2 linked regions of the Homo sapiens genome follow. The protein of the gene in region 1 interacts with the protein of each later gene in a biochemical or structural test. Each region holds a gene or a part of one and is shown in the gene's direction. Other genes may lie near its edges.

Region 1 (3,606 bases):
TGAGATCATGCCACTGCACTCCAGCCCGGGCAACACAGCGAGACTCTTTGTCTCAAAAAAAAAAAAAGAGTGGGCGGTCAAGGAAGGCCTCACTAAGGAGGTGATCTGACAAAGGAGCAAGCTAGAGAAAAGCACAGTTCCCAGCCAGAGGGAACAGGAAGTGCAAAGTGGCTGCAGGGTGGTGAGGGGACACCCAGGAGCTGAGGCAGGAGGAGGAAGAGGCTGGGGAGGGCATGCTGGCTCTTTGGATTTTGTTCTAAGAACAGGGGAAACCATTAGAGGGTCTTCACCTGGAGGCTGGCATAGCTTGGTTTACCTGTAAGAAGAGACCCCCCGGCTGCCCTGGGGAGACTGGGATGTGCAGAGGGGAGGCAGGGAGACGAGCAAGGAGGCTGCTGTGCTTCCCAGGGAGGTACCAGGTAGCTCAGACCAGTGGGAAGTGGAGTTAGGCAAGAAGCAGGAGGCCTCCCAAGGGGCGGTGATCAGCCAGGCTGCTTTTCCTTCAGGTTCCTTTAGCAAATTTGTGAATGTGATATCAGCCAGGACGGCCATTGGCCACGACCGGAAAGGGCAGCTGGTGCTCTTTCATGCAGACGGCCAAACGGAGCAGCGTGGGTGAGTCCTGGGAGCTGAGGCCCCCCGGCCGGGGCTCAGTCCTGCTAGGAGGAACGTTGACCCAATGACAGCCACCCTCTGACTCTACCTGCTTTCTGGGATGTTGACACCTATCTGTCCCCCCTCCCAGGGCCCCCTCACCTTCCCACAGGATGAGGGTTCTGAGATCTTTGCCGATTCCAAGAACTCATCATCTTCAGCTTTAGGCCTCACCTTTCCTGAACCCTAGATAGGATACAAGGAAATGGTCACAAAGTGAGCAGGGAGAAGATCTTGGTTCCAATCCCAGCTTAGCCATCGATGACTTGTCTACCCACCTATGCCGTAGACAAGTCCCTCGGCCTCCCTGAGCCTCATTTCTAGCCCCTGTAAAGAGAGTGTTTTGGTTTGCTCTGGTTGCATAACCAGCACAAATTTAGCAACACTCAGCAGGGAATGTTCTTTTGTTTGTTTGTTTCTTTGAGACAGGGTCTTACTCCGTCGCCCAGGCCAGAGTGCAGTGGTGCAATCTCAGCTCACTGCAACCTCTACCTCTCAGGTTCAGGTGATCCTCCCACCTTAGCCTCCCAGGTAACTGGGATTACGGGCACCCGCCACCACACCCAGCTAATTTTTGTATTTTTAGTAGAGATGGGGTTTCATCATGTTGGCCAGGCTGGTCTCGAACTCCTGACCTCAGGTGATCCATCTACCTCGGCCTTCCAAAGTGCTGGAATTAACAGGCGTGAGTCACCGCACCTGGCTAATTTTTGTATTTTTAGTAGACACAGGGTTTCATCATGTTGGCCAGGCTGGTCAACTTGGAATGTTCTATGTTCAGGGTGTCCCATGGACAAAACCAAGATGCTGGTTAGGCAGGGCTCTTCTCTTATCTGGAAAGAATCCTCTTGTTTAGGTTGTTGGAAGAATCCCCGTCGCCTCCTCAGTTGTGACTGAGGTCTTGGTTTCCCTGCTGGCCGCCATCTGGGGCCTCAGCTCCTTCAAGCTGCCCAGGTTCCTTCCCATGTGTGTCCTCTCCCCCAGTTGTCCGGCCACCCTCTCATCCCCCTCGTATTTCAAATCTCACTTCCTATTCTGTCACCAGCCAGAGAAGGCTCTCTGTGTTGAACACTCCTGTGATTCCAGTGGCTGCACCCAGATCCTCCGGGCCGTTTCCCCTCCCTTAAGGATTCCTATGCCATGTAACAGCACAGGCATGGGTGTGATCTCACGTGTTCACAGCTTCCGGGGGCTAGGATGAGACATGCTTGGGGGCGGGGGCCACTTAGAAATGTGCCTGCACTGTGGGCGTGATGCTCTGCACTGTGGAAGGAAAAGGAGTTAAATGAGAAATGATGGTGGGCGCTGAGCCTGAGCAGCGCCGCTTTGTGCCGCAGCATCAACCTGTGGGAAATGGCGGAGTTCCTGCTGAAACAGGACGTGGTCAACGCCATCAACCTGGATGGGGGTGGCTCTGCCACCTTTGTGCTCAACGGGACCTTGGCCAGTTACCCGTCAGATCACTGGTAAGCACGTGAGAGCCGCCTTCGTGAGGGCTGAAGTCCAGGTCTGCCCCAGCCTGTCTCATTCAGCCAATATTGAGTGCCTGCTATGTGCCAGGCCCCGGGGGTTCAAGAGAGCAGAAATTGCTGCAGTCCCTCCCCCAGGATGCCAGTACTACCCAGGCCTAGGAGCAGGGTCAGTTGGTCAGCAAAGACCTCCCTGAGGATGACAGAATAAGAACTGAGATCTGAAGGAGGTGGTAGCTGGGTGGGGGTGGGAGAGCCTTCCGGGCAGAGGGCACCACATGTGAAAGGCCCAGGGCTGGGAGGGATTGTAGGGAGCGGAGGAACCTATAAAAGACTGGAGAGGGCTGGGCACAGGGGCTCACGCCTGGAATCCCAGTGCTTTGGGAGGCCGAGGTGGGAGGTTCGCTTGGGCCCAGGAGTTTAAGACCAGTGTGGGCAACATAGACCCTGTCTTTATGAAAAAATAAAAAAAAATTAGGCAGGCGTGATGGTGCACACCTTACGGTTACAGCTGCTCAGGAGGCTCGGGTGGAAGGATCGCAATACCTCATCTCAAAAATAGATAGACGCCATCTTGTAGGTAGGTAGGTAGACAGGTGAGAATGGAGAGAGGGGTGGTTGGGGGCAGCCTGGAGGGAGTTGAGGGGCCGTCTGGGGGTGTCCTCTCCTCACACATCACATCCCTCTACAGCCAGGACAACATGTGGCGCTGTCCCCGCCAAGTGTCCACCGTGGTGTGTGTGCACGAACCCCGCTGCCAGCCGCCTGACTGCCACGGCCACGGGACCTGCGTGGACGGGCACTGCCAATGCACCGGGCACTTCTGGCGGGGTCCCGGCTGTGATGAGCTGGACTGTGGCCCCTCTAACTGCAGCCAGCACGGACTGTGCACGGAGAGTGAGTGGGGGTTCTGGGGAGGGGGCTCTGCCCAGCCCTGCCTTGCCCTAGGCCCTCACCTGGCCTCCCCGGTCTTGTCTCGGCAGCCGGCTGCCGCTGTGATGCCGGATGGACCGGGTCCAACTGCAGTGAAGGTAGGAGCTGCCACGCCACTAGCGGATGGGGAGACGGTGGCCCCCGGCAGCCCCCACTGCTCCTCTGCTGCTTCTGTCTCCACCTTCTGGTCTGGGAAATGCTTGCCTCTTGTCTTCTGCCCCGGCCTCACCTGCACATCACTGTGTGACTCCCCTGTGGCTGCTGCGGCCCGTTCCACAAAGGGCTCGGCTAAAACAAGGGTCCCCGGGCTCTGGCTCCAGGGCCCACCTCAAATCCAGCACGGTCTTATCTTGAGATCCTAACTGCAGTGCCTCTGTAGAGATTCTGCTTCCAAATAAGGTCACGTTCAGGGGCTAGTCCAGGGAGGGCAGGGGGTGCTTCACCTTTAGCCCGGCTCTGTACACATGGGCAGGGGCAGGTATCCTGTCCTGTCGAGAAAGGCTCTGACACTGGAGGCCCCAACCTTTCTCCTCCCTCCTCCCTCCTCCCA
Region 2 (3,810 bases), on another chromosome or scaffold:
AGGGAGCAAGGGCTGGGGCTGCCTCCTATCTAGGCAGAGTCTGGCTGGAGTGGGCCTTAGGAGAGTTGGACGAGTGAGCCAATGGGAGCGGGGTGCTGGCTGCACACTGCCCTGAGCTCTTCCATCAGAGCACATCCCACTCCAAATGGTGATCCACTGCAGTGGTGACATCGAGCCCAGGCCCTGGGTCTCACTCCAGCTTTGTCCTCTGTAGGTTCTAGCCCATGGGAGGCCTCAGGAGATGATTGCCAGTTGAATGAATGAATGAATGATGGAACCAGTCTTTCTTGAGTTCCAGCTGGGTGCCAGGCACTGTTCTAGGTGATGGGGCTACAGCAGTGAGCAGAAGTTCCTGCCCTAGGGTGCTCACGTTCTAGAGAGGAGATGGTCCACTACACAGGTGAATATTTTGGGGGCCGGACAGGTGGGAGTAGGTGTTGATGGAAAATGAGGCAAGGAAAGGGCTTGGGGATGGAGTTAAGGATGATGCTCTTATATAGGCTGGTCAGAGAGTGTCGCTGAAAAGGTGGCATTGGAGCAGAGAATCTAACTAAGTGGGGGAATGGTGCATGCATGACTCTGGAAGAGGGAGCTGCCTGTGCAAAGGCCCTGAGGCAGGATTGTGCTTGTAGTGGAGCAGGGACTTAGGAGGAGGAGAGGGCAGCTCCTGCCTTGGAGAGAGAGGACAGGAGAACCGGCCAGAGAGGGAACAGGGTAGATGGTGCAGGCCCTTGTGGGCTGCAGTGAGAACTTTACTTTTACTTCGAACTTGCTGGGAGCCATGGAAGGGGTTTGGAGGAGTGCTGGGGTCTGACTCAAGTTTTCACATGATCCCTCTGGCCTCTGTGAAGAGCACAGGAAGTCAAACAGATTTCAATTTGGTATCCCTTAAGAACGGGACAGATGCAGGCCTGAGCCCCAGCCCCACCCGTTTCCAGCTGGTTATTGTGTGATGGCTTTGGTCCACAAATCCGCATTCAACACCTCCCCTGTGCCAGGCTGCCCTGGGCCCTGGGAACACTGTGGGGACTGAAGCAGCCGTACATCCCTGGCCTCATGGCACTGGTGTTCCGATCCAGGAGGAAATGAACATGCAAACCCTTAATATGTAAGGAGGCAACTCAGGCAGGGTCTTGGTGGCCCAAATAGTTCGCCCTGCTGAGCAGGGGGGCTGACCAGGAGAATGAGAGGGTTTGATTTTGTTATTTACGAAGAATATATTTTCATCACCCAGGAATAGTGATGACCTTGAGAATATGAGTGGTGTAACCCAGCACCAAAATGCAAGCCATATATATGTTGAAATTTTCTTTTTTTTTTCTTTTTTTGAGACGGAGTCTTGCTCTGTCCACGCCCGGCATATGTTGAAATTTTCTTGCCACATTGCAAAAGCAAAACAGGGGCCAGGTATGGTGGCTCACGCCTGTAATCCCAGCACTTTGGGAGGCCGAGGCAGGCGGATCACGAGGTCAGGAGTTTGAGACCAACCTGGCCAACATAGTGAAACTCCGTCTCTACTAAAAATACACAAATTAGCTGGGCCTCGTGGCACACCTGTAGTCCTAGCCACTCGGGAGGCTGAGGCAGGAGAATCGCTTGAACCCAGGAGGTGGAGGTTGCAGTGAGCCGAGATTGTGCCACTGCGCTCCAGCCTGGGTGACAGAGAGAGACTTTGTCTCAAAAAAAAAAAAAAAGCAAAACAGGCTGAGCATGGCAGCTCACGCCTGTAATCCCAGCACTTTGTGGGGCCGAGGCGGGCAGTTTGGTTGAGCCCAGGAGTTTGAGAACAGCCTAGGCAACAAGATCCTGTCTCTCCCCACCACAAAAAAACTTTTAAAATTAGCCACGCATGGTGGCATGCACCTGTAGTCCTAGCTTCTTCGGAGGCTGAGATGGGACGATCGCTTGAGCCCAGGAGGTCGAGGTTGCAATGAGTCAAGATCGCACCACCACACTCCAGCCTGGACAATACAGCAAGACCCTGTCTCCATATATTTTTTAAAAAAGCAAAATAATCAGTGAAATTCATTTTAATATATTTTCTTTACCCTAGTATATCCAAACTATTATTTCAGTGTGTAACCAGTGTTTTTTGAGATGGAGTCTTGCTGTATGGCCCAGGCTGAGTGCAGTGTCAGGATCTCAGCTCACTGCAACCTCTACCTCCCAGGTTCAAGCGATTCTCCTGCCTCAGCCTCCCTAGTAGCTGGGACTACAGGTGTGCACCACCATGCCCGGCTAATTTTTGTATTTTTAGTAGATATGGGATTTTGCCATGTTGGCCAGGCTGGTCCCAAACTCCTGACCTCAAGTGATCCACCTGCCTCGGCCTCCCAAAGTGCTGGGATTACAGGTATGAGCCTGTGTTACCCAGGCTGGTCTCAGATTCCTGGGCTCAAGTGATCTGCCTGTCTCAGCCTCCCAAAGTGCTGGGATTAGAGGCGGGAGGCATTGCACCCAGCCTTCAGAAGGCTTTCTGAGGATTCAGGGCTGCTGGGGCTTGTACAGGAAGCACATCAGGTCTCGGTCTCTGTAGAGGAAATGTCCTTGGTCTAGAAGGCTCTGAAGGCCTTTGCGGTGAGATGCTGGGTGATGCCTGTGTTACCTTCATAAATGCACATTAGTCCCTCCAGGGCAGGGCCCAGGTTTGACAGGATGCCTTTGCTGGTAGTAACAGACCCACCCTGATCTGGGGCTTACATGTTTAGGGAAGGCGTTATCTCCCCTAACCAGAAGCTCCAAGGTAAGGCAGCTCCCTGGCCCCGTCAGCACTTCCCTTGACTCTGCCTTACTCTGCCTGGAGCAAGATGTTGGCCGCCTTCGCACCCGAACACCCCTCACGGCAACAGCCACTGGACGGAGCACGGCCTGCCCCTCCCATGGCCCCCCCCAGCACCTCAGAAAACTCTGGAGAGGCTGCGTGGTCTGGCCCCACCTGCTGTGCTCTTCTCCACCCGCCCCCGCCGCCGCCCGCATCCTCAGACTCTGTGCCTCTTTCATCACCGTCCGCCTGCCTTGCCTCATGCTGTCCTACCTCCAGGCCATTGCACCTGCTGGTCCTCCTGCCTGGAGCGCGCCTCCCCTTGTTTCTGCCTGGTCCATTTCAGCCTCATCTTTTGATCCTCAGATCCCAGCAGCTGTGTGCAGAGAAGCCTTCCCCGTCCCCTGCGCCATTCTCATTTTAGCCTCTCAGCCCCGAAATGTGTATACCTCTTTCAGAATACTTGCCACTGTCCCTGTCTGCCACCACTCCAATCCAGGGATGCCTCGAGAGCAGGGTAGATGTGACTCATCCTTAAGCCTGGCCCCAGAAATCCCATTGTGAATGAGAGAATCCCTTTAAAACTCTCTCACAGGCTTGCTTGCCTCCTGTGACAGTGAGCTCATTCCCCCTGTTGCTGGCCCTGAATGCCGGGTCATTCTTCCCATGATCCTGGTCTGTCAGAGCTGCCTCAGCCCTTTCCCCAGGCACCACCCCAGTAGCACCCATACAGTATCCCTGGGCTCCCTGGCCATCACGGGCCTTTAGATCTTTGCAGAGCTGGGCCTCTGCCAGAGCCCTCCCTTTGGGGCCACAACTGCTCCTGTTTTGAAGACCGAGAGCTTTTCTTCTCTCTCTGAATTCCTTTTTTTATAGCAAATTATACCAGTTATGCAGAAGATAGCATCAAATAGATGTGGACCATTTAAAGCCTATTTAAAGGCCAGGTGCAGTGGCTCATGCCTGTAATCCTAGCACTTTACTTTGGGAGGCTGAGGCGGGTGGATCACTTGAGGTCAGAAGTTCAAAACCAGTCTGGTCAACATGGT

Evidence for each region.
Region 2: the proteins of NAGPA (region 1) and AP2A1 form a complex in vitro, tested with the Homo sapiens proteins (one study listed by BioGRID).

The regions. Positions count from the first base shown.
Region 1 is NC_000016.10:5,027,394-5,030,999, reverse strand, and holds part of NAGPA (N-acetylglucosamine-1-phosphodiester alpha-N-acetylglucosaminidase precursor), read left to right. Parts: intron 1-506; coding exon 507-615; intron 616-1,991; coding exon 1,992-2,120; intron 2,121-2,814; coding exon 2,815-3,020; intron 3,021-3,106; coding exon 3,107-3,154; intron 3,155-3,606. UniProt on the Homo sapiens protein: Catalyzes the second step in the formation of the mannose 6-phosphate targeting signal on lysosomal enzyme oligosaccharides by removing GlcNAc residues from GlcNAc-alpha-P-mannose moieties, which are formed in the first step.
Region 2 is NC_000019.10:49,773,240-49,777,049, forward strand, and holds part of AP2A1 (AP-2 complex subunit alpha-1), read left to right. Parts: intron 1-3,810.